Linked DNA regions of Homo sapiens: regions 2, 3 and 4 are each reported to be linked to region 1. The links are microRNA targets in miRTarBase. Many come from high-throughput screens and were not tested one by one. Region 1 holds a microRNA gene; each other region holds the end of a gene's coding sequence.
Evidence for each region. Region 1 holds the annotated microRNA hsa-miR-6856-5p (AAGAGAGGAGCAGUGGUGCUGUGG, at 2,085-2,108, shown strand). A microRNA usually pairs through its seed, bases 2 to 8, with sites in the 3' UTR of a target mRNA and lowers its output. Matches are read on the target gene's strand: a 7mer-m8 pairs with bases 2 to 8, a 7mer-A1 pairs with bases 2 to 7 and ends in A, and an 8mer does both.

Region 2: the mRNA of UNC5CL is a reported target of hsa-miR-6856-5p. Seed matches in the 3' UTR shown: 7mer-m8 at 3,669-3,675.
Region 3: miRTarBase lists CTDNEP1 as a target of hsa-miR-6856-5p. Seed matches in the 3' UTR shown: 7mer-m8 at 2,549-2,555.
Region 4: the mRNA of ZMIZ2 is a reported target of hsa-miR-6856-5p. Seed matches in the 3' UTR shown: 7mer-m8 at 3,226-3,232 and 7mer-m8 at 4,152-4,158.

What each region holds. Positions count from the first base shown.
Region 1 is chr9:130,624,218-130,627,217 of GRCh38, forward strand. It overlaps MIR6856 (microRNA 6856), which reads left to right and starts at 2,080; the gene lies at 2,080-2,146. It overlaps FUBP3 (far upstream element binding protein 3), which reads left to right. Exons shown (of 19, transcript NM_003934.2): 12 at 2,147-2,288.
Region 2 is chr6:41,023,546-41,031,238 of GRCh38, reverse strand. It overlaps UNC5CL (unc-5 family C-terminal like), which reads left to right. Exons shown (of 9, transcript NM_173561.3): 7 at 484-584; 8 at 738-851; 9 at 2,644-4,344. The coding sequence ends at 2,866. Among named protein-coding and RNA genes, the nearest start is that of UNC5CL, 12 kb to the left of the region's middle. RefSeq lists a silencer at 2,941-3,050 and enhancers at 3,191-3,390, 3,461-3,530.
Region 3 is chr17:7,241,511-7,248,349 of GRCh38, forward strand. CTDNEP1 (CTD nuclear envelope phosphatase 1) reads right to left here. Exons shown (of 8, transcript NM_001143775.2): 2 at 5,767-5,833; 3 at 5,554-5,672; 4 at 5,281-5,352; 5 at 4,744-4,860; 6 at 4,516-4,627; 7 at 3,041-3,125; 8 at 2,081-2,735. The coding sequence ends at 2,675. It overlaps GABARAP (GABA type A receptor-associated protein), which reads right to left and starts at 939. Exons shown (of 4, transcript NM_007278.2): 1 at 731-939; 2 at 91-169. The coding sequence starts at 820. RefSeq lists enhancers at 96-647, 648-1,199 and silencers at 812-1,001, 1,592-1,701.
Region 4 is chr7:44,765,313-44,773,005 of GRCh38, forward strand. It overlaps ZMIZ2 (zinc finger MIZ-type containing 2), which reads left to right. Exons shown (of 19, transcript NM_031449.4): 16 at 23-267; 17 at 852-1,021; 18 at 1,109-1,351; 19 at 2,204-4,569. The coding sequence ends at 2,311. Among named protein-coding and RNA genes, the nearest start is that of ZMIZ2, 20 kb to the left of the region's middle. RefSeq lists enhancers at 2,672-3,198, 3,033-3,172.

The DNA of each region.
Region 1 (3,000 bases):
AAAGCAAGAGATTGGAAATTATAGTCCCAGCTCTGCCATCAGTCATGTGACCTTGGAGCTGCCTTTGAACCTCTGGGTCTGGTGTTCCCAGCAGCAGACTCAGGGTGCTTTGCACCAGGCAGTGCTCTCTATGTGATCCCCTAAGAGCCATCTGGTGGTTCTTACTCAAATTACAAATGTGTAGGCCCCCACCCCAGATCTACTGAATCAGCATTTCCAAGGGAGGGTCTTGGGTCTTCACTAGAGACCCAGGCAATTCTTAAGATTAGACAAGTTTATAAAACGGCCACTAAATCAAGCTCGTTCAGCCTGTGGGCTGCACGCAGCCCAGGAACAGCATTGAATGCAGCCCAACACAAATTCATAAACTTTCTTAAAATGTTACAAGATTTTGTGTGTGTGTGTGTGTGTGTGTGTGTGTGTGTGTGTGTGTGTTTTTAAGCTCATCAGCTATCATTAATGTTAGTGTATTTTATGGGTGGCCCAAGACAGTTCTTCCAGTGTGGCCCAGGGAAGCCAAAAGATTGAACACCCCTGCTCTAAATGATCTCTAACATCCTTTTTTTGTAGCAAGAGTTTATGAACCTTGGCCAGGCACGGTGGCTCACTCTTGTACCCAGCATTTTGGGAGGCCGAGGCAAGCGGATCACCTGAGGTCAGGAGTTCGAGACCAGCCTGACCAACATGGTGAAACCCTGTCTCTGCTGAAAATACAAAATTAGCTGGACGTGGTGGCTCACGCCTGTAATCCTAGCACTTTGGGATGCCAAGGCAGGTGGATCACCTGAGGTCAGGAGTTCAAGACCAACATGGTGAGACCCGTCCCTACTAAAAATACAAAATTAGCCGGGCGTGGTGGCGCATGCCTATAGTTTCAGCTACTCAGGAGGCTGAGGCAGGAGAATTGCTTAAACCCAGGAAGCGGAGGTTGCAGTGAGCCAGGATCCTGCCATTGCATTCCCGCCTGGGCAACAAGAGCAAAACTCTGTCTCAAAAAAAGTTTATGAACCTTGCACTGCAGAGGCTGCGAGATGTTTGGGAGAAAACCTTTTCTTCGAGATCTGTGGCATACCCAGAAAGTTGACTGTGCGCTCCTGTGCGTGTGTGAACATCCATTCTAAAATTGCCTTGTTTACTTGGCAGTTGTCTCATAAGAGCAGAGTGCGGGGGAAAAGCACTCCAATTGTCTCAGCTTTCTGCTGGTTTAGATTCTGGGTAAACGTTCACTTTACTCTTAATCAACATGAGCAGGTTTTGCCCAACATTTCTTCATGTGTTGAAAAGTCTGTGCAGCTTCTCCCTTCCATGAAATAGCTCTTAGCTTGACCAGGTTCACCCTCCACATTTAAGAGAGTTTAAATACTGCAGCTCCAAAATGACTCCGCGGACAGCGGCTGGAATGAGACTTGCTGCTGTCTCAATGAAAGGGCTCTTCCTCTGTCCGCTGTTAGATTTAGGTTTTTCTCTCTGCTGGGTGAACAGTGGGAGAATGCCTCAGAGACTTCTCCAGCCCCACATGGGGAGGAGGCCTTGGCAGGTTCCCTCTGTTCCTCCCTTCTGAAGTATCCCTGAATGGTCACTCTTGAACCTGTTACTGCTGCTGCTGCTTGGGGGCACAACAGCCAAGAAGTTTTCTAAAACTGAGTAAAATCCGTTTATCCTTCTTGCTGACTGGAGTGCCAGGTGTTGTGACTCATAGCAGTGCCTGGTTGGGGAGGGTCAGCAGGCTGTGCATATCTGACTTCCCATAGGCCCAGTATGTGTCCGCCGCAGGAAAGAGGGGCCTCAGCTGCAAGGGAGAAAGCAGTTCTTGATGCCTGTAGATCGGGGCCCAGTGAGGAAAGCTCCAGGGAGAAAGGCCGCTGGGCTTCAGCCTTGGAGTTTGTGTCTGCCTATTTCTGTTGGATACATTTGAGCTGTTTATGTAACCACGTGTGTTCGTCTGCACAGGTCCTCCCCAGATACACCTGTGATCGGTGTTAATTCTGGCTTGAAAGAGCCCTTCAGAATGGGAAGTGTGGAAAGGTGCTAGGTTCTGATGGGTGGCATTGATTACATCCTGTCACTTAACCTCCTCCCTGGAAAAGAGAGGAGCAGTGGTGCTGTGGCAGTGGCAGAGGTCGCTACAGCCCTGTGATCTTTCCAGGAAAGAGACGGCTTTGGAGGCCTGGCAGCAGCCAGAGGAAGAGGTCGTGGCCGTGGCGACTGGAGCGTGGGAGCCCCTGGTGGCGTCCAGGAGATAACATACACGGTGCCAGCCGATAAGTGTGGCCTCGTCATAGGCAAAGGTAAGAGGCAGCTGGGGTTTCACATCCCCCCTCAGCTGTTTGGCTTGAGGGAAGGCAGGTCACGGGACCTCCAGAACCTTTGGTGAGGTCCCTTTGCTGCTGCAGGCTGGGGCTGCCCGGTCTGGAGGCAGTAGCCACCTTCTGCCGAAACCCTGCTTGGCATGGTTCTCTGAGGCTGCTGACGGGCCTGTTGTGAGGAGCAAAGTGTATTATTTCTGGTGAGTATGAAGAGACAGCAGTAAAACTCCCTGCCTGTTGAGGGCAGCTTAGCTTGGTGAAAAGATACCTTGCGCAAGATGGGGGGCATTTGTCAATCGACTGATTGGTAATTAACTCACCTCCAAGGAACTTAGAGGGACGGTTGAGACAGTATCCTCAGTGAAAATTCCTTCTCGACAGTGTGTCACTTGTTTCCCTTACCAGGTTTGAGTATTTGGTCTTGATCCGCGTAACATGTGAAAATGGTTTTTATCCTTTCTGCATATTTACCGTGAGTCACGGACTCTCTGTGGAGGGAAATAAACATTGATGTGTTAGTTTTTTCTGGGCATTTTGGAGAACATTAGGAAGAAACCCTCATTCATGGCTACTGTAGCTCCTTCCTGTCCTTCACTGAGAACCAGGAGAGAGCAGCCACATTTCTCAGCCATTGGCAGCAGTTCATCTTGGCTAGCCCTGGGACCCAGAAAGGCTACTGAGACCAGGGCCGAGG
Region 2 (7,693 bases), not on the chromosome of region 1:
CCTCTCCTGCTGCACCAAGGGAAGATGCGAAGAAATCGGAGTTGAGAGTCTTTGGGGAACCATAGTGGCACCTTAGTGGAGGGCAGGCAGATACCCTGTTGTCACTTGGAGAAGAGGAAGGGAAGGTTGGAATGGAGGAAGGTACACATATGGCTGAGATCAGTGTCTCTATGGTTGGATGACCTCCCACTGCTCCACGGCCCCACCCAGGACTTCCCCTGGTGGCTCAGGCTGCACTCTGGTCTTCATGTCCCAGTTCCCAAAGAGCTCAGGGGCAAACATAAGGCTGAAGGTGCGGTTCTGAAGTCACAGGGAGACAGTGGGTAGAGGGTGCTGGGTGGAGCAGGGTTGTATCTCCTGGTAAGGTGGCTCTGAGTGACAGACTGAAGGAGAGACATGAGGAATGGAGGTAGGACTCCAGCTTCTTACTCAGGGGGATGGCTTGTGACCCCTAAGTGTGTTCCCTGCCCTGTGTTGACTCAGGGCTTGGAGACCAAGTATATGGAAATCCTCAGATTCCAGGCATCAGAGGAGGAATCCTGGGCAGCGCCACCACCTGTTTCCCAGCCGCCCCCATGCAATAGGTGAGACGGGGGTTGCTTGGGCTGCTGCCTGGGGGATGTTGGGTTCCTACCCTGGCACCCACAGGGTGACTACAGCATTTAGGGTGCATATGGGAGAACCAGAGTGGGTCTGTTTGTCCCTTTCTTCCAAGAACACCCTTTTCCCTGCCTAAGGCTGCCCCCAGAGCTCTTTGAGCAGCTGCGGATGTTATTGGAGCCAAACAGCATCACCGGCAATGACTGGCGCAGACTGGCCTCCCACCTGGGGCTTTGCGGCATGAAGATCCGGTAGGAAGAGGGGTGAGGTCTGTGGATGGTAGAGGAGGGTGGGCTGGAATGGGGTTCCTCAGGACACTCTGGAGACTGGATCACAGGCAAGGGAGTGACTTAAAAGTCAGAGAATGGCTACTGTCCACCCTATTTCCCATAAAAGGGCAGCTCTATTAATCACTGTATCATCAGTACCTAGAATGATGCCTGGTGCATAGTAGGTGCTCAATTAACATTTAACAGTGAATCCATTAACATGGAAGTTATTTGGTACATGTTGAGTGCTTGCCATGCTATGCCCTGAGGAGGAGCAAGACAGATTATAGGATAATGTGTGTAAAGCATGTAGCTGGGTGCCTGACACTTGTTAATTCAATAAATGTTATCAATAATGGTGACAGTGCAGTCATGATCCCTGTCAAGGAACTCAGAAAGCAGGAGAATACTGAGCTAAGCTCCAGAAACTACACTATGAGTGCAGCGGTCAGGGAAGACTTTATCCTGGTGATGGGGCTAGAGCTGGACCCTGAAAACAGGGTGGATTTTTATTTATTATTATTATCATTATTTGAGACGGAGTCTTGCTCTGTCGCCCAGGCTGGAGTGCAATGGCGCAATCTTGGCTCACTGCAACCTCCATCTCCCGGGTTCAAGTAATTCTCCTGCCTCAGCCTCCCGAGTAGCTGGGATTACAGGCACACGCCACCATGTCCAGCTAATTTTTTATTTTTAGTACAGACGGGGTTTCACCAGGTTGGCCAGGCTGGTCTGCAAACTACAGGGTGGATTTTTAAATCATTCATTTAAACATTTATCAAGTACCTATTATGCCCTGGAAACTGTGCTAAGCACTATGATACAAGATGAATGAGGCATGGTCCCGGCGCCTAGGAGCGCACACACTAGTAAAGGGTTCAGAGAGCTTGAAAAATAAAGGCAAGTGTTCCTTGTGCCTTCCTGTAAGAATCCAGTATTGTATAACACATTGAAGAGAGACAGAAAACAGCTGAAGCAAGAATAATAATGAACTGCGGGCGTTATGACCAGAAGTCTGAACTGAGGGATGCAGAATGTTCTCTTCCACCTGGGAGGGGTGAACTAGAAAGGGCTTCAGGGAGGAAGTGATGGGGAAGAGATCAGCCATTTTGTTTTGGGGAGTAGCAGAGGTGGCTGTGGGTGTAGTGTGTGCAAGGCGAGAAAGAGAGAGGCCTGAGCTAAGGGGGTTCAGGATGGGAGAAAGGAGAGAAAGCATAAAGACAGGGCAAGGCCAGGTGCTGGATGAGCCAGAAAGGCTCATGGAGCGTGGGCTGGTTAGGAGGTGAGAGACTCTGGAAGGTTTTAGTGGACGGGAGAGTCGTGATAAAAAGCCATGGTTTACAGCAACTGTTTCCTTAGTAGTGAGCAGGATGTTGTGGCCTAGGAGAGAGGGAGGAAGGAGGGAGTTAGGAGGCTAGGGGGAGGCTAGGGGTGTATTTGGAGTGGGGGAGGTAGAGAAGGCAATTACAGAACATCAGAACTGTAGCAAACTTAGAGGTCCTCTTGTCTAAGCCCTCATCTTAATAAGAGGAAACTGAAGCCTAGAGAGGAGTAGGGGTCAGAGTTGGCCTCCAAGCCAGGACAATCTCAAGTTTCAAAGCCCTGGGGCTTCCCACCTCCTGTGCCCTGGAAGGCAGGCAAGAGCAGGACAAGGACAAAAGCTACAGGATGGGGAAGGGACGGACCTTGCGCTGCGCAGCCCAGGGAGCCTGCAGCAGGGGGGGAGCCCCTCCCTGCTCCTACACCCTTCTCTTCCTCCCCTACCTCGGGCCAGGTTCCTGTCCTGCCAGCGCAGCCCCGCAGCGGCCATCCTGGAGTTGTTTGAGGAGCAGAACGGCAGCCTGCAGGAGCTGCACTACCTCATGACCGTCATGGAGCGGCTAGACTGCGCCTCCGCCATCCAGAACTACCTGAGTGGGACACACGGCGGCAGCCCAGGCCCCGAGCGCGGGGGCGCCCGGGATAACCAGGGCCTGGAGCTGGACGAGAAGCTCTGAGCGCCCAGCGGGCAGGGCCGGAGGAGGTGTAGGGGCGAGAGGGGTTGTTCTCCTACGCCTAAGAGGAACACAGCAGCTGTTCCTGGCTGTGCCCACCACCCTTCCCAGAACCCTCGGACGGTGCCAGGGCCGCCCGCGTCCTCGCCAGCCTCCCAGCAGCAGGCGCGCCCTTCCGGCCGCGAGCTGTCCCGCGTGCGGGTCCCCTCCTGGCCGGCAGAGGGCGCAGGAGCCCAGGAGATGGCCTCAGCGTGGCCAGCCTGCCAAACTGACCAGGGGACGGCCACGGTCCCCGCGTGCACTTTAGGGCCGGTCAGGCCCTAAAGTATTCACTGAGCACTTAGGAAGACCGGGCATTGGGCTGGTGTCATGAAGAATACTGGAATATAGGAGGTAGGGTCTGGAGCCCTGACAAGCACACAGTTCTTTTGCAGGAGTCAAGATGTGCTCATAGGAGCCAAGGGCAAACTCGAAAACAGCCCTGCCCTGTGGTTAGGGGAGGTGGGTGTGGCTTTAGGAGTTGAGAGGGGAAGAGCTGAGTGCGGGCTGGAGCAGCGAGAATGCTTCACGGAGGATGTTGGGGAGAGAGGATTTGATTTGCCGAGTGGTTTGGAGATCTTTAGGGGCGGGTAGGGGAAGAGGGTGGCTGGACTTAAGGTAGGAGCCGAAAGTGGGCATGGGAGCCCATCCCCGTGGGTGTGAGGCCGGGGTAGGACCAGGCTTCCCGGCTAGGCACGCCTGGCTGGCTGCCTCTGCCTCTACTAACTTCCTTTGTCTCTTTATCCTCCTGCTTAGGCCGTGTCTTCCTCTCTCTCTGCCATTTTCTCTATCAGAAAACATTAAAGCTGAGTAGAAACTTCAAGATGATCATTCTGGCCCAGCCCTTTTATCTCTTTATCTCCAATGGTGTGCGTTTTAAGTTTCTCTGACTTGGTTTTTCTGTCCCTGTCTCCCACAGTTGTTCCCGCTCTGCACCTGTGTTTCAGTTACTCTCTCTCTCTGTCTTAGATCTTTTTGTTTCTGCCTAGTCTCTGTGCCCTGTCTTTGTGTGTTTCTTTCTCTGCCTGAAACCCTCCCTCTTTTCCCTTCAGGCATATGTCTCTAAACCAATGTTATGTATCAAAGACTGTTGAAAGAGACAGGGCTACTCTAGGAATGGATGGGTGGGGATATTTTCCCCATGGATCAAGATCCAGTTTAGGGTTGGGAAATAAAGGATAGGGATAAAAGAGGCACCCCATTCAGTCAGCAGATACTTATTCAGCACCTACTATGTGTTTGATACTGTATACAAAAGACATGAATGGGCTGGGTCCTGAACAGAGAATAAAGGGTTTGACTCCATTCTGGAAATTCTTTTGTTTGCAAACAGGTGTTGTTAATTTGTTCAAAGGCAGGCAAACAATCTCTCTGGCAACACAATTTTCTTCTGTATTTAATTAAAAAATATTAAAGCTTTTTTTCTATGATGAATGATAAAATATGAAAATTGCCTTCCTTTGTTACTAACTATATTTTGCTCAGATTGGCAAATTTGGATGTGAGTATGAATGATTTTATTTGGTAAAATTGTACCTATGGGGATGGGTTGGAGGGAAGCATTTTGTAGATTGTGCTTCCAGTATGAAAATTACCTGGGTCCCGCATGGTAAGTCAGGGAGGTTCCCTTCCTTTTCTGTTAGATGCAAGCCTTCAGAAGCAGGCCTTTCCATCCCTTCCCTGTTCCCCTATCCCCACCAGTCCTCTCCTACCCTTCTCATCTGTCCTCCTTACCCCATCGGGTGCTGCCAGTCACGCCAGATTAGTGCCCCGGACTTTTCCCCCTTCACTTAGCTCAGGATTGAACTGTGCAGTAGCCCGGCACTGTTTAGCCAAAGACATCATTGTGTTCCTTCCTACCCTGGAAAAAATCATTTTAAGAGTTTCACATCTACTGGAGTTGCAAATAGAAGCCACACAGATTCCAGTGATGGGAATAGAATGCTTTCTGGCCCCAACTCCAATTTCTCAAAATGCGTTTCCAGTGCTGGCAAAGGGAGGCTTGGAAATCCTGGGGTAGATGCAGGCCAAGTGATTCCTATAAGGCAGACACTTCCTTTCTCACATCAAACCCATTTGGCATGTTATGTATTGGCACCTAATGCTGAGAGATGGTGTGCCCCAGTGAGCATCAGGAGACTTAACATTTAGCCCTGACTCATACTAACTAGAACAGCTCTTCTTTGTGCTTTAAACTCTTCCTTGGAATGAAGCTACCATATTAGAGGCTGTCCCAGGGCCTTTGATTTCATAGACTTATGCAGAGGTGGCACACTGGTCACCCAAGGAACGTTCACTTGGGGATTTTTTTTTCTTTTTGAATTGCCTTCAAATAGCAAACAATTGATCACTGCTTGTGGCCTTACTTCCAGCCCTTTCCCTGATGAAGAGTTGCCTAAATCACCTGCTGAAAAACACTGCGTTTGTGATTTCTGCTTTTTCACATGTTGCAGAGGCCCACGTCTACACTTCCTCCTGCTGGATTTGGAGTCTGGGGAAAGGCGATGGGGAAATGAAAGGGTAAGGTTGGGCCTAGGTCTGTGGGGTTGGAGCCTCTAGTGCTCAGAGGAAATGTGTGTCCTTGGCATCCCCTTTGACCACTGAGCAATATTTATGCTAATGTTCAGATCTGTGCTAACAGAAATTCAATGAAAGCCACATATATAATTTTACACTTTCTAGTAGTCACATCAAAAATTGTAAATAGAAATAGGTGAAGTCAACTTTAATGTTTCATTTAACCTAATATATTCAGAATATTATTTCCACATGTAATCAATATAACATTAATAGTATATTTTACATTCTTTTTTATATTATTTGGAATCTGGTGTATACTTTGCAATTACACCACATCTCAATTTGTATGCTAATTTTTCATTGGAAAGATTTCATCTGTATTCAGCTTTTATACAATTTATAGCTAAAATGTACATTTACATACACAAATGAGCCAAAAGTTTTCCAAAAATGGGATTAGGTATCAGTTTTTAAATTTTAGTTCACTGAAATAAAATAAAAATTCAGTTCCTCAATTGCACTAGCCACATTTCAGTTGTTTAGTGGCCATGTGTGGCTAGTGGGTACTGTTAATGGACAGCACAGATCTGGGTTAGGAATCCAGCTGGGTATAACTTTATAGTGTTTTTACCATTCACTTATTTATTAATTCGTCAAACATTTGCTGAATACCTACTCTGTGCTAAGCCCTGCACAAATTGTTGGTGATAACAATCCAGTGAAGAAGAAACATTCTTGTTCTGTAGGAGCTCCTGGAAAGCTGGGAGTCAGAAGGAAGTACGCTTTCCTCCCATCCTTCTTTGTACCTGACTCAAGAAGGCAATGGGAGATGAGGTTCAGGCCGATACTCTCTGTTGCAGAAATGGTTCACACTGCAGCCTGGTGTAGAGGCAGTAGATTCAGGGTCAGTGTTCCTGGCTTATCTAGCACATCAAGTGGGTTGTTGGTTGCTGACAACAGGATTCACTCTGGCTAGTTGAGGCAGATGGGATTTAATAAAGGAAACTGAAGGACAAACAATCATTTGGAGGGTGGAGAAATAGATTTGGGGTAAAGTTTCCAAGAACAATGCCCTAAACTGTGCTGTAGGGCTAGATCATGGAGGGAAACTGGTATTACTATGGCTGCTGCTACTGAGCACTGGACACCAGGAACTTGACTTTATTGCAGCCACTCTTGCCACCACCACTGATGCTACTTCTGAGGCAGGAACCAGACCTCACCACCACATTTTTTTTTTTTTTTTTTGAGATGGAGTCTTGCTCTGTCACCCAGGCTGGAGTGCAGTGGTGCGATCTCGGCTCACTGCAAGCTCCACCTCCCGGGTTCACGCCATTCTGCTACCTCAGCCTTCTGAGTAGCTGGGACTACAGGTGCCCGCCACCACGCCTGGCTAATTTCTTTTTGTATTTTTAGTAGAGACGGGGTTTCACCATGTTGGCCAGGATGGTCTTGCTCTCTTGACCTCGTGATTGGCCCCCGTCGGCCTCCCAAAGTGCTGGGAATACAGGCGTGAGCCACTGTGCCCGGCCCCTCACCACCACTTCTGAAAGCTAAGGCCTCTGCTGCCTTCCATGCCAGCAAAAACAGAAGCTCCGTGCACTGCCTGCTCTTTATGCTACTCACTTCTGAATCAAATCTCTAGTGGAGGCCTTGGGTTGTGAGAGCTCAGACCACATCCCTGAATCTTAGCTGCAAAGACACCTGAACGCTCTGAACTCTGACTCGATCTCTGACTTCAATATTAGGGAGATGAGACTTATTACATGAGAATATCCCCAGATACGGGAAAGCTACTCAAAAGTTGATGAGAAGCCACAAATATGACAGATGTCTACTACAGTCAGAGTGTGGTCATGCTGTAGCCTCAGGCAGCAAATTCCCTTCTTAAGAACAGCCATTCACTCAGTAGGTGCCATATCAAGGTTCTGGCAGCAGAGTAGACTGAGGATGTACTATGGATTGAATGTTTCTATGCCCCTAAAATTCATATGTTAAAATCCTAACCCTCAATAAGATGGTATTAGGAAGTGGGGCCTTTAGGAGGTAATTAGGTCATGAAGGTGGAGCCCTCATGAATGGCATTAGCACCCTTATAAGAAGAGACACAGGAGAGCTTGCTTCCTTTCTGTCTGCTTTTTATCACATGGGCGCACACAATGAGAAGATGGTGGTCTGAGAACCAGGAAGAGGGCCCTCACTAGACACCATATCTGTCAGAACCTTGATAAGGTGCCTGTGTAAGACCACTGACCTTCAGAATCTTCTCAA
Region 3 (6,839 bases), not on the chromosome of region 1:
AAAAGAACAGCTGCTAGGTGGAGCCTCCTCCCGCAGAGACTGCACTCCCACCCACAGGAAGCAAGCCTGAGTCTTGGATCAGGTTCCCACCTGTGAGATCAGAAGGCACCAGGTATTTCTTTTTGTCCAGGTCTCCTATCCGAGCTTTGGGAGCCTTTTCTACTATCACCTGATAAAGAGATGAAAATTAGGAGACAGAAGGAATGCAGCCCCGAAGCTGCACCTGTCAAGAACTCAAGAAACAATATTCCTAGCACCTAAATCTACCCCAGATTCATCTCTTTGTCTTTGTACACGCGGTGCAGCACTGAGTCCCAGAGATCCTGACCTCACTGACTGGAGCTCATTTAAATATCCAGGATCCATCCCCCAATAGGGCGTCACCATAAACAACTATCTTAATCAGACGGAGGTGACTTGTTTGGGTCGACTAGTGATTCAATCTCGCAACCTTAGCTAGCTGGGGGGATGACCATTTGAAGCTCAGGCTGTCAAACTCTCTAAGGCCTCAAATGCTAAGGTTTCTCTCTCCTGTCCACATCCCTCTCAACCCCACATCCACCACTACCCCACTCCTTTCATCCTGGGTCCCAAGGACAGCAGTTTCAGGCTCGCTGCCAACCCCACCACAGCCAGCAGCCTGATCCCTGCGCTGCCTGTCCCGATCCAAGGCCAGGCTGTGGCGTCAGCGTAAGCGTCCCGCGCCCTCGGCCCTGGCTACTGTCCTCACCGGCACCCGGTCCGGGTATTTCTTTCGGATCTTCTCGCCCTCAGAGCGGCGCTTCTCGAACGGATGCTCTTCTTTGTACACGAACTTCATCCTCCCGGGAACCGGGCTGGACAGGGCTGGGCTGAGGGAACCCAGGGGGGCCGGGACGGGGGGCGGCGACGACGGCGGCGACGCGCGGGCGGATTCAGCGGAGCGATCCACGAATTTGCGCCACTTCCCTATTCACCAACCCCGCCCCCGACTATCGGGGACTGCCCCCCCCGCTAAGATACGCCACTACCTCAGCGGCGCTAACGCTGCTAGCGTAGCACCACCAACTGACCGGCCCCCTCACGCCATTAGCGTAATCGCTTTGGAATCAATTTGTGGGCTACGCAGGCGACGTAGCAAAGACGGTTGGCTTTTGCTCATCGAAAATTACTCTAAACCTATTCCCCAACCGTCCCCTCAAGGAAGCTGGGGCTGAAGAGGAGTAAAAGATGGTAATCATCATACGAGACTTGGTTCTCCAAGTTCCTTTCGTTAACAACGTAGAGGAACAGCAGGGACAATTACAAGGTTAGCTATTCACGAACCGTGTTGCTACGCTGAAGGCGGCCGTTGACACCAAAACAAAGTAGTACCCAAGTGGCGGAGATGATCTCCAGAAATAAGAAGTCAAAAAGAAAACAGATGTTTGGAGAGATCTACAGAACGCTTAAGTGCCAAAATGAGTAGACCAATAGGGACTGGAGAGGAGGTTGGAAAGGTAGGGACTACGCCAGCGCGGAGGAACACTGCGGGACTTGAGTTAAATCATGTGATCTCAAAGAGGGCGGAGCGTCACGTGGCGGGTGCGCGAAGTAGGGCCGGCTTGGGAGGGCGCCGGGGAGGCGGGGCCGGCTGGGCGACAGCTGGGAGGGGGACCGACGCCTTCCCGGACAGCGGAGGTCGGGGCGCCAGCCACCTGGGGGCAGCGCCCGCTTAACCTGTCCACGTCAGTGCCCCGGACGAAGCCCGGTTTCTCCAGCTCTACGCCCTTTGGCCGTCCAGGTTTCTCCTTTCGTGCTTCCATAGCCGGTTTCTCCTTTCGTGCTTCCATAGCCTGCTTCTCCGAAGGTGTCCTTCCACTCCCCACCAGCGCGCCCATCCTGTCACTCGGCCCTTCCCGCCAAAGCATCTGGTGTCAGCATTATTGTATCCCAGGCATCTGGTGTCCGCATTATTCTATCCCTATACTCAACGCCACCTTTCCCCCTGCCCCTTGAGTCCAACAGCAGTCTCTTCCCCCTCTGCCTGTGGGACAGGGTGCATGTGAACAAAGTCCCCTCTCTTCACTTCCCAAAACCCCAGAGAAGGACCTAAGGCCGCTTTGGTTTCAAAGTTATAATGCATGGTTTAAAAGAGAGAAAAGGAAAAAAGACACAAAGCTGGTTACAGGTCTGAGGGAGTCTAAGGAGAGAAAAATAGAGGGAGAGTAAAGGGGGGACAAATTTAGGGAAAATCCAGTGGCCCAAAATCCCAGTATCCCACCCACAGCCCAGCCCTTGGAGCAGGAGTGAAGAATTAGATCAGTTTTGTACAAGAGTTTTTTAAAAAAAATCAAATCACAACAAAGCTGACTTGGCTTCTCTTTGAGCCTCCTGGATCACCGTATGTCTGTCACTCTGGCCAGTCCTGCCTCTTCACAAACACTGATTCGGCTCTCCTAGGCTTCCGCCTGTGTCCCAGTCTGGGGTTTCCATGGAGTGTGAACACGAAGTTAAGAGTGAGGCTGCTTCAGAGCCCCTGGCCCATGTGTCCATCCAGACTCCAAGTGGAGTGTAGGGCTCCCAGGGCAGAGAGGGGTGGGAGGGGCAGACCCTGCCCAGGCAGTCCTCACATTGGACAGGGCATCAGACGGCATCCCAAGGGCTCGCCCTCCCTTTCCCCCCCACCCCAACTCAGGTGGAGGGGGAGCAGCTGTCACCAGAGCCGATGTTGGTGAAGGTTTCGGCTCAGCACGGAACGAACATCAGCGGTGAACCTGGGGTGACAATAACTTGCATTGGTAGAGTACCTTATAGTTCATACCCTCACAACACTCTTGTAAGGCAGCATCACTGGAGATGTGGGACCTAAATTATCACCATATTCATGATTAGATAGGTTCAATTTGCCCACAGCCTACTAGCTAAAGTGATGAGCTTTGAAGTAAGACGACCTGGGTCCAAATGTTAAATTCTTAAGGGAACAGAGTTAAAACAGGACAAACCTTTTTTATTCCCTCTGAGGATCCCCCACCTCCTCCTTTCTTGAGATATCCAAGTGTCCAGAGCCCACTTCCCTTACCTGAGGGCATCCAGCATTGGGAGCAGGTTGAGAAGGGCTGTGTCGCTGGGGTCACTGAACCAGGATTTGATGGGGATGGCATTGTCTAGGGTGGGTGAAAATGCAGATGAGAAGAAACAGAATTCAAGAGAGACGGTGTTTTTCTCTTCTTGGAGGGAAGGAGGAATTATTGTTAAAAATATATGCCTCCCACTACCGGAAGTCAACAACCTAAGTAAAACTTTCCTGGTTTATGCTCCGAAACTAAGTTTTAATCACCAGATCTCATACCTATTGATGCTTCTAGTCAAGCTTACTGCCATTGTGCCTCACTTGAAACACACTTGGCCAGGCGCAGTGGCTCACACCTGTTATCCCAACACTTTGAGAGGCCGAGGTGGGAGGATCACTTGAGCTCAGGAGTTTGAGTCCAGCCTGGGCAACATAATGAGATCCCTTCTCTACTAAAAATCAAAAAATTGGCCAAGGGCAGTGGCTTACGCCTGTAATCCCAGCACTTTGGGAGGCCAAAGCGGACGAATCACGAGGTCAGGAATTCAAGACCAGCCTGGCCAACGTGGTGAAACTCCGTCGCTACTAAAAATACAAAAAATTAGCTGCGCGTGGTGGCAGGTGCCTGTGATCCCAGCTACTTGGGAGGCTGAGGCAGGAGAATTGCTTGAACCTGGAAGTCGGAGGTTGCAGTAAGCCGAGATCACGCCACTGCATTCCAGCCTGGGTGACAGTGCGAGACTCTGTCTCAAAAAAAAATAAAAAATAAAAAAATTAGCTGGGCATGGTGGTGCACGCCTGTAGTCCCAACTACTGAGAGGCTGAGGCAGAAGGATCACTTGAGCCTGGGAGATCGAGGCTGCAGTGAGCTATGATCATGACACTGCACTCCAGCCTGGGAACAGAGTGAGACCCTATCTCAAAAAATAAATAAAAATAAATTTTATTTTTATTTATTTATTATTTATTTTTTTTGAGACGGCGTCTCGCTCTGTCACCCAGGCTGGAGTGCAATGGTGCAATCTCGGCTCACTGCAACCTCCGCCTCCCGGGTTCAAGCGATTCTCCTGCCTCAGCCTCCCGAGTTGCTGGGATTACAGGCGTGCGCCACCACGCCTGGCTAGTTTTTTCTATTTTTAGTAGAGATGGGGTTTCACCATGTTTGTTAGGCTGGTCTCGAACTTCTGACCTCGTGATCCGCCTGCCTCGGCCTCCCAAAGTGCTGGGATTACAAGCATAATCCACCGTGCCCAGCCAAAAATAAATTTTAAAAATGAAAAAAATGATATAAGAAATCCGACTTATGAAATGGACATATATGGTATCTCATTTGAAACACAAAAATAACTTGCATTTCGACTTACAGCAAACTAGGGATAATCTAGGGAATCCCAGCTCTCAAGGACCAAAGCCCAGGTCTCCTGCAAAAATACCTTCTCAGAACCATGTTCTGGTCCTGCCAGACTCACCACCTTCCCCCGTACCTGGATGGCTCCTGTAAGCCCCTGGGGAGTTATCCAGGATCACAATGCTGGAGAGGTCACTGTGGACCACAGAGAGGTCCTTGATGTAGCTGCCCAACTCCAAAGTGCAGTGCTGGAAGGCAGGGGATCATGTAGCAGGCCTCTCTCCAGGATACTCTCCTCAAACCCAGATCCCTCCCTGGTGGCCTCCCTCCCAAGCCACACTCTTAGACTGGGATTCTAGCTTACCTGTCTGTAATATCTCCTCTTAAGAATGCTTCTGCTATTGTCCAGTTTATCTGCCACAGCAGAGCCATAGATCTCCATGCTTGCTGTAAACACCACCAGCTCGTACCACTGGCTCACCTGAAATAGATTGGGGGAGAGGGCGATGCCATACAAGGTGATGATTCCTTTAGACATACAGTTATCTTTCAGAAAGGCAATGGCATAGTCCTTCAGGCCTTCCATCAACATCAAATGTCTCTGAGGACACGAAATTCTGAACCCCCAGCCCAAACCTCCAAACTCAGTGTTAGGCATCCTACACTCTTATGATTCAGAAATGCAAGAACAAAAGAGAAAGATGCCAGCGGAAAAGAATTACATCAGCACAACAAATGAACCCCAAGTACTGAAAGCCACTCCCCTACCATTACACAGCCTCCCCTCTAGAAAACTGCTCTAACCCGTTTCTCCTCACCCCTTCCTCCAAATCCTCCCAATTCCCAGAGCCCTAAAACCATTCCTTCATTACAGAGCTCCCTTTAGCTCTCCAAAACTCACCACTTCCAGGAAGAAATCCACATGGGGCCTCTTATGTACAAAAAACCGGACAGGATGTTTGTCTATTACCACCTACAGAGGAACAAGATGGGCTGGGGGATGTCATGACCACCACAACCCAGGCCTAGAAAACGCCCCACCCATCTGCTTCCCTCCTCCAGGCTGACACTGGTGCCAGCGGATGGAGACAGATGCTCTGGGACTGGGAAAGGGAGTCCAGGTTTGGGCAGAGGAACAGATGGAACCATTTCATCACTCCCCACCACCACACACCTTGAGGATGAAGTCAGGAGGCGTACCAGGCCGGACTGTGGGCCTCAGGACCCCATCATGGTGGGAGTGAATAAGTGTCTCATCCAGATCCAGCACCAGGATCTTCCTCTTCACCTGGGCTGAACCAGAGTGGGGAGGAATAATATTGACCGACCTCTGACCCAGAGCTAGCCCCTACTTCACCCTAAAGGAGGCTTCCCACCACATACTTACCTAGCCGATTCCGGGACACAGGAGATAAGGGGAGGATATCATATCGAACAGTTTGGTACTGAATTACCTACAAATAGCACAAAAGAGGATTGAAACCCTTGATAAGGAAGCCTTCCCCAGTAACAGTAACAGGGAGCACATAATGAACATTTACCACAGGTACTATGTATGTAATTTAGGCTTATTTCTTCTTCTTTTTTTTTTTTTTTTGAGATGGAGTCTCGCTCTGTTGCCCAGGCTGGAGTGCAGCGGCATGATCTCGGCTCACTGCAACCTCCGCCTCCCAGGTTCAAGCAATTCTCCTGCCTCAGCCTCCCTAATAGCTGGGACTACAGGCGTGCACCACCACGCTCGGCTCATTTTTGTATTTCTAGTAGAGGCGGGGTTTAACTATATTGGCCTGGCTGGTCTCAAACTCCTGACCTTGTGATCCTCCTGCCTTTGCCTCCCAAAGTGCTGGGATTACAGGAATGAGCCACTACGCTGGCCTTTTTCATTTAATCCTCAAAACAACCATAATATTACTGTTATACCTGTTTTAAGGTTAAAGAAACTGAGGCCACACAGCTAGGAATTATCTTAAGTTGTTTCTCTCCCTAATTAAAATGAAAACTCCATGAGAATATGATTTTGTCTAGATCATGGCTGTATTCCCAGTGCCTAGAACACAGTAGCAAAAGTGGTCAGTTGATATTAGTAGAATCAGCCAGGCGCAGTGGCTCATGCCTGTAATCCCAGCACTTTGGGAGGCCAAGGCAGGCGGATCACAAGGTCAAGAGACGGAGACCATCCTGGCCAACATGGTGAAACCCCGTCTCTACTAAAAATATAAAAATTAGCTGGGCGTGGTGGTGCGTGCCCATAGCCCCAGCTACTCGGGAGGCTGAGGCAGCAGAGTGGCTTGAACCCAGGAGGCAGAGGTTGCAGTGAGCCGAGATCGCACCACTGTACTCCAGCCTGGTGACAGAGCAAGACTCCGTCGCAAAAAAAAAAAAAAAAAAAAAAAAAAAAGTAGAATCAATGAAGTGATAGAGCCAGGATTGTACCAATGCAGTTCAACCCAAGAACGTGCC
Region 4 (7,693 bases), not on the chromosome of region 1:
TTCCCCACCTGTCCCTGCCCAGCTCTGACTATGAGGAGATCACCATCGACCCCACGTGCAGCTGGAAGCCAGTGCCCGTGAAGCCTGACATGCACATCAAGGAGGAGCCGGATGGGCCAGCACTGAAGCGCTGCCGCACCGTGAGCCCCGCCCACGTGCTCATGCCCAGCGTGATGGAGATGATCGCCGCCCTGGGCCCCGGCGCTGCCCCCTTTGCCCCCCTGCAGCCCCCCTCAGTCCCTGCCCCCAGCGACTACCCTGGCCAGGGTAAGTACAGCAGGCTAGCCTTGAACCTCAGATGACCCTGGGCATATGGCTCCTCTCCCCAGATCAGTCTCCTCACCTGCAAGAATGTGGCTATGCAGGTCACACACCTAGGTTATCAGTGTTGCCACACAAAACATGCCGCGGGGCACCTCCAGCCCCTCCCATCTCAGGGACGTGGCGGTGAAGGCACAGTCTCAGCTATGGTCCCAGGAAACAGACAGTGGGGCCTCCACCCTTCCTTCCCCGTTTGGATTAAGGGGCTCCTGGCTGGAACACCTCACAGGACTGGCCCCATCTGGGGCCCCCCTCTGGGACCCACCTCACACGCGTGGTGCGTTTGTTTGTGGCTGCTCCCATTCCTATAACCTCCGAGACCTTCACTCCTAGGAATGTCCCAAGGCCAATTCCCTTGGCAGCAATGAGAAGAAATGCCCTTTTCCAAATAGCGACTTCTGCAAAACCCGCTGTTGTTTGTGGGTGAGCACTGCAAGTCCCACCCATGCCACAGCCAGCCTCCCTCCTGGCTCCTCTGCCAGCGGTGGCCTTCCCCAGCCCTCACCCAGGCCCCGACTCTCCTCTCACAGGTTCCAGCTTCCTGGGGCCTGGAACTTTCCCTGAGTCCTTCCCACCCACCACGCCCAGCACCCCAACCCTTGCTGAGTTCACCCCGGGACCACCCCCCATCTCCTACCAGTCTGACATTCCCAGCAGCCTCCTGACTTCAGAGAAGTCTACCGCCTGCCTCCCAAGCCAGGTCAGTGCCAAGCCGAGAGGCCAAGGGGCCCTGTCTCCCCAGGGGAGCCCCTGAGCTGTTTTAACAAATTCTTCTCTCTGTCTTCAGATGGCACCAGCAGGTCACCTGGACCCCACTCACAATCCTGGGACACCAGGACTACACACCTCCAACCTTGGGGCCCCTCCAGGTCCCCAGCTGCACCATTCAAACCCTCCCCCAGCGTCCCGGCAGTCCTTGGGCCAAGCGAGCTTAGGACCTACGGGTGAACTGGCCTTCAGTCCTGCCACAGGCGTGATGGGGCCCCCCAGCATGTCTGGAGCCGGGGAGGCCCCAGAACCAGCTCTGGACGTGAGTACCAGGCCCCATGCGGGGGAGTGCGTGGGAGCCAGGGCTAGAGGTGGTGTGTCTGTTCCAGGTGCGTTCTGGAAGGGAAGACAGTGACCCCTCAGAGAGCCGGTCAGATAAGGTCAACTAAATGCAGCTTTTGTTCATGAATTAGATACCTGGAGTAGCTGCGGGTGGGATGCGATGTACCACATTTGTGTTCATGAGGGGCCTGGATGCCGTACGGGCGGACGCAGAGTCTCAGAGGAGACTGCACTGGAAGCTGACAGCACGGTCCTTAGAGTCAAATTTCGTCTGTCCATTTGCTCAGTAGCCCTGGGTCTTGACTCACAGGTGGAATGGGAGTGCAAACTCAGTACATGAAGGACAGAACTGACTGTCCCTGGACCATAATAGAAACTCATTCTAGAAGTTCAACATGAAACTCATTCTAGAAGTTCAACATGAAAAAGTTAGGAAGAACAGCTCCAAGCAGAAAATCCTAGGGGCATGGAATTCCACCACCAGCATTCACCTTGGGGCATCACGGTGGGGATCCCCACGCAGGCTGATGCACAGAGGGAGTGTGGAGTGGCTGCACTCCCTCACATCCCGTTTCCTGGTGGTATTGAACAGCATGTTGCCAGCTGTTCTGGCCCCAGAGCAACCTTGCAGGGAGGTCCCAGGGGGTGGCGTGTGCCTCTTTGAGCACATGCAGGCCTATGGTGGGGCCCCGCACCCGGCCTGTGTGTGAGGAGGGGCTGCTCAGCATCCCCACTGTGCCTGGAGACAGGGCCGGGATGTGGTGACAGGATGGTCACTCAGGTGTGGCCAGTCAGTGACCAAAGCTGCTAACAGAGTTCACTTTGTCCTCAGCTGCTCCCGGAACTGACCAACCCTGATGAGCTACTGTCCTACTTGGGCCCACCCGACCTCCCTACGAACAACAATGACGACCTGCTTTCTCTGTTTGAGAACAACTGATCCTGTGTTTACCCCAAGCCCGGCGGGGACACGCTCACAGATGTCACCACAGCCCTGCCCTTCATGCCCAGCCCCATGGGACACCCGGTGGTCTTTCCCAAACCTCCCCCAAAACACACCTGGAGCCAGAGCCTTCTGCCGCCAGCCCTGCCCCTGAATTGGAAGCAGCCCTGTGCTCGATGGGAGGGGCTCCCAGGCCGGCAGCCCTTGCCACCTCCCTCTGCCAAGCCTGCTGCTGCAGAACGGTTTTTGCTGAGGTGCCCCTGCCCAGCCCTGTCCAGCCTTGTCCACACACACATCTCACGCCCCTGGTCTCACAGCCTCACACCTTGTCCTTCCACCCCTGCCTGCCCCCACCCAGCCTGCTTCTTGTCCAGCATTGATCCTTCTGTTTCAACAACTCCTCCACTGGGCAGAGCTGGGCATCTGGCAGGGCTGGCTCTGTCCCCTGGGCCTTTGGCTCCAGTGGCCCCTGTGCCCAGCAGTCCAGCTCTTGGAACCTCGCTGAATGGCAGCCTCTTGGGGGCCTGGAGCTCTGGCAGCCCAGCCGTGTGTGGTGTCAGGTTCCTCTCCCCACCCCAGCTTCAAGCAGAGGCCTCGGGGTGGGGGAGCTACAAAGCACAACAATGTACATAGTGTAGAAACACTAACAGCTGGGAGAGGGGAGCCAGCTGTCCAGCCAGCATGTTCCTGTTGTACAGCCCGGTCTCCCTGCGCGCTCTGCTCCTTCCCATGTGCAGACAGATCAGGGAGGAACCTCCAATGGGTGGGGGACAGTGAGCTTCGGCCTGGCCGAGGTGGGTGGGTGGGCTCTCAGATTCAGCTCTGTGTAAAGATTCTCTAGCGGGCTGCGCTCCCAAGTTCCCCTTCTCTGTGAAAGTGAAGAATTAGTACAGCTGTGTTTTTTAAAGCCACCTCTCTGTCTCCACCCCATGGGCCCACACCCAGGTGGGGGAGGAGGAAGCCACTGCATCTGTTGGCTCAGGGCCCCAGCCTGTGCGAGCAGGGCGCCTGGGCTGTTGTGTCTCCTGTCTGTGCCGATCTCTATTAAAGGACTCCCTCTTGGTGGGCCTGGCCGAGTCCCTCCTTTGTGCTCCCAGGGACTATTTTCTCCTCGTAAGCCAGCGACCTGCCTAAAGCTTGGGCTGTGCCTGCAAAGCTTGTGCAGGACCTGGGGGCCAGGTCGACCTTCAAGTGGCTTTTGGGGCCCCAGGTTGAGCTCTGGATGTTTCAAGCCAAGGCTCGGCTATTCCCGCCCCATAGTAAATTTCCTTTTCCCTGGAATTTTCCAAGTTGGCTTCAGCTGAAGAGCTGTTTTGTGAAGCATCCCAGGCTTGCCCAGGAGAGACATTTGCCACTATGTCACCTTATCTGGGCTTGCCCTGGGGCACTGAGACAGTTGTTTGGCAGCCCCAGCCCAGCCAGGGGCTCATCCTTCTCAGCTCTTGTCCCTGGGAGGCCTCTGCTTGTCACTTCCCAGAGATTGCAGAGGTGTGTCCTGCCTACCATCTGCCTGTCCAGCTTGGTGGGGGTCCGGGTCACCATTTCCTCCAGTCCTGGGCCCCATCCTTGAGGGCCTTCCCAGCCAGCCAGCAGGAGAGGCAAGAACTGGGGGAACACAGGAACCTAGGGGAGGAGGGGAGCGCTGGGCATCCTCAGGCTGGCGGCCAAGGCCTGCCCCTGGAGGCACTAGAGGAGGGCATCTGTCTGTGGGAGCCCAGAGGCTGCAGGGAGGAGGAGGAGGGAGGTATCTGGTGTGAGCGTTGCCCCTGCGACATTTGGGACCACACAGGTGGGCTTCCTTATTCCCTGACAAAGCCTCTGTTTCCAGCTCTTCCGCCCTCTCTGGATGAGGGAACAGAAGTGGAGGAAACAAAAGAAGCAGCAGCACGCACAGTCCTGTCGCTGGGTGCGGAGACAGCCTGGCAAAGTCCCACTCAGCCATGGCCTGATGCAGGCCCCAGGCCCTCCTTTCTTGGGTGTCAAATGACTGTGTCCTGGACATCTGATGCACCACCTGCCCTGCCTGTTGCAAACGTGATGCTCCCGGATGGAGTGGAGAAACTAGGAGACTGGGACAAGCAAAAGGCTGCAAACAACCCAGAAGCCCATCCTCAGAAGACTGGAGAAATGATTGAGGAATGCATGGGCACCGTGGCCCTGTGCTCCATCACAAACACCTCTCAGAAACAACGTGGGATGAAAAAGCAAGACAGTTCATACAGTATGATGCCATTTTTATAAAGCTCAAAACCAAATATGTGTGGAATTCATACCCAGGTGCTAAAGTCATCAGGGAGGGCAGGGAGTCAGTACAACACAGTGCTCACCCGTGGGGAGGGGACGGAGCTGTGCTTAGGGAAGAGCAGAGATGCTGGAGGTTTTGAACCTCAGGGTCAGTGGTGGCTTCGTGGGTTTCACTTTGTCGTACTTTCTGTTTCACACATTTTCTTGTGAATGTGCCAAGTATTACATAAAAACCAAAAGGCTGACCAGACTTAACAGTGCTCCACCCAATAGCAGCAGAACACACGTTTCTAAGTGCACAGGGAACGTTCTCCAGGACAGACCACACGTTAGTGCACAAAGCAAGTCTCAGTAAATTAGAGATCGGAATCCTGCAAACCACCTTCTCCAATCACAATGGAATAAAACCAGAAATCCATACCAGAAGGAAAATGAAAATTCACACATACATAGAAATTGAACACACTTTTTAACAGCCAAAGGGTCAAAGGAGAAATCACGAGAAAAATTAGGAAATAGAGATGGATGAAAACAACATACCAGAACTTAAGGAATGCGGCAAAAACTGCTCTGAGGGAAATTTATAGCTGCAAATGCCAACATTTAAAAAGATGCGACATCTTGGCTGGGTGTGGTGGCTCACGCCTGTAATCGCGGCACTTTGGGAGGCCGAGGCAGGCAGATCACCTGAGGTCAGAAGTTCGAGACCAACCTGGCCAAAGTGGTGAAACCCTGTCTCTACTAAAAACACAAAAATTAGCCAGGCGTGGTGGCTCACACCTGTAATCCCAGCTATTCACGAGGCTGAGGCAGGAAAATCACTTGAACCCAGGAGGCAGAGGTTGCAGTGAGCTGAGATCATGCCATTGCACTCCAGCTTGGGTGACAGAGTGAGACTCTGTCTCAAAACAACAACAAAAAAATTCCTAGAAAGATACAAATGACCAAAATTGTCCCAGGAAAAATAGAAAATCTGAACAGGGCCAGGTGCAGTGGCTCACACCTGTGATCCCAGCACTTGGGGAGAACTAGTTAGGAGGATGGCCTGAGGCCAGGAGTTCGAGACCAGCCTGGGCAACAGAGACCCTGCCTCGACAAAATCTTTAGAAATCAACCAGGTGTCATGGCACGTGCCTGTAGCCCCAGCTACTTGGGAGGCTGAAGCAGGAGGATAGCTAGAGCCCAGGAGTTCAAAGCTGCAACGACCTATGACAGCACCACTGCACTCCAGCCAGGAATGAGGCAGAGACAGAGACCTGACCTCAAAAAAAGAAGAAAAAGGAAAAAATCTGAACCAACCTAAAACACATAGGTAGAACCAGTCATCAAAAGCTTCCCAACAAAAGAAAAGCCCAGGACCAGATGGTGAATTCTACCAAATGCTAAAGAATGGACATAAATCCCCAAATTCTCCCAAACATTGTGGAGGAGAAAACACTTCCTAATTCCCCGTATTCATGTGAGGGGCCAGCTTCCCTCCCATTCTGCCCCAGCTTCCTCCAGTGGCCTTCCCCAGCAGGCAGTGGCCCCCACTTCTGACCCCTGTAACTCTACCCACTGTGGGTTTCCTCCTTGCCACCCTTCCAGCCTTCCAGGCTTTGGGGGCCATTGAGACAGCCCATCCTGCCTGCCCTGAGTGGGAGGGCAAGACATGACTGGCTCAGGATGGCCTGTCACCCAAGTTGCCTCAAAGAAGCCAGGGACATCAGTGCAGTCGGATGCACAGTGCAGTAGGTTTTGGTAAGTGCACACGCGTGTGTACCTGCCCTTCCAAACCTCACAGGAGAGACCAACCCACACCCCACCCCAGGTCATCACTGTTCTGGCCCCTGTCACCAGAGATTAATTTTGCCCTTTCTGAAACTTTATGTCAGTGAATATTAGAGTCTGTGTCTTGTTGTTAACTGATCCTTAAAGCGTCTGTGTTTATTTTCTTTTTTTTTTTTTTTAAGACGGAGTCTTGCTCTGTCGCCCAGGCTGGAGTGCAGTGGCATGATCTCAGCTCACTGCAACTTCCGCCTCCCGGGTTCAAGTGATTCTCCTGCTCAGCCTCCTGAGCAGCTGGGATTACAGGTGGCGCGCCATCACGCCTGGCTAATTCTTGTAATTTTAGTAGAGATGGGGTTTCACCATGTTGGTTAGGCTGGTCTCGAACTCCTGACCTTGTGATCTGCCTGCCTCGGCCTCCCAAAGTGCTGGGATTATAGGCTTGAGCCACTGTGCCTTTTTATTTTCATTTAACTGTATATTGTTCTTGTTCATTCTCTCAGTTACCACTTAGAAGGGAGGATTAATGGGTACCCTTCCCCAGCATCCTATACCCCAGCTCTTCTCTGACCAAGTCTTGAACCCTGTCATGGTACATTAGCTAGGACTCAATAGGTTGCAAGTGACGGTGACCAATTCAAACCAGTTAAGGAAGGAAGGGGCTCAAAATAGCAGTCCTGAAAGGGCCCTGGGGCAGCTGGACATGGGTAGGCATCCTTCCTTGGCCTCTGTGTGCAAGCTTCACCCTCAACCAGCTGCTTCTGTGAACTTGAGATCCAAGCTTCGGAGCCTCACTTCTCATTGATTCACCCTAGAAAAGAGGTGATGATCACTCTCCTTCTGGTTCCAAGTTTAAAATCCCAGGGATGGGATCTGGTTGACTCAACCAGGTAGGGACCCACCCACACAGCTAGAGTGGGGTCAGGAGCACTGCCCGAAAGAAGGGAAGCAGTTATCACAAGAGGGAGTACAGAGGGCCTCCCATTGCCTTGGGATGAAGTCCTTGCCTGCTCCCAACAGTCTCCACATTACCTCGTTCCTGCCCGTCTACCTTCTGGGTCAGGCTTCAGCTAAGACGCCATTCCTGGGAGAACCCTCTGCCTCCAGGATAAGTCAGGGCCTCCTCCTGAAGCCTTGATTCACTCTGTGGAATGCCTTTCACAGTTCCCATCGTAGCTGATCAGTTAAACCGTGGTGTGATTGTTCTTCCCACTTTTTTTTTTTTATTTTTTAGAGATGGGGGGGTGTCACTCTGTCAGGTGGAGTGCAGTGGTGCAATCACAGCTCACTGCAGCGTTGACCTCCAGGGCATAAGCACTCCTCTCATCTCAGCCTCCCAGGTGGCTGGGGCCACAGGCTTACACCACC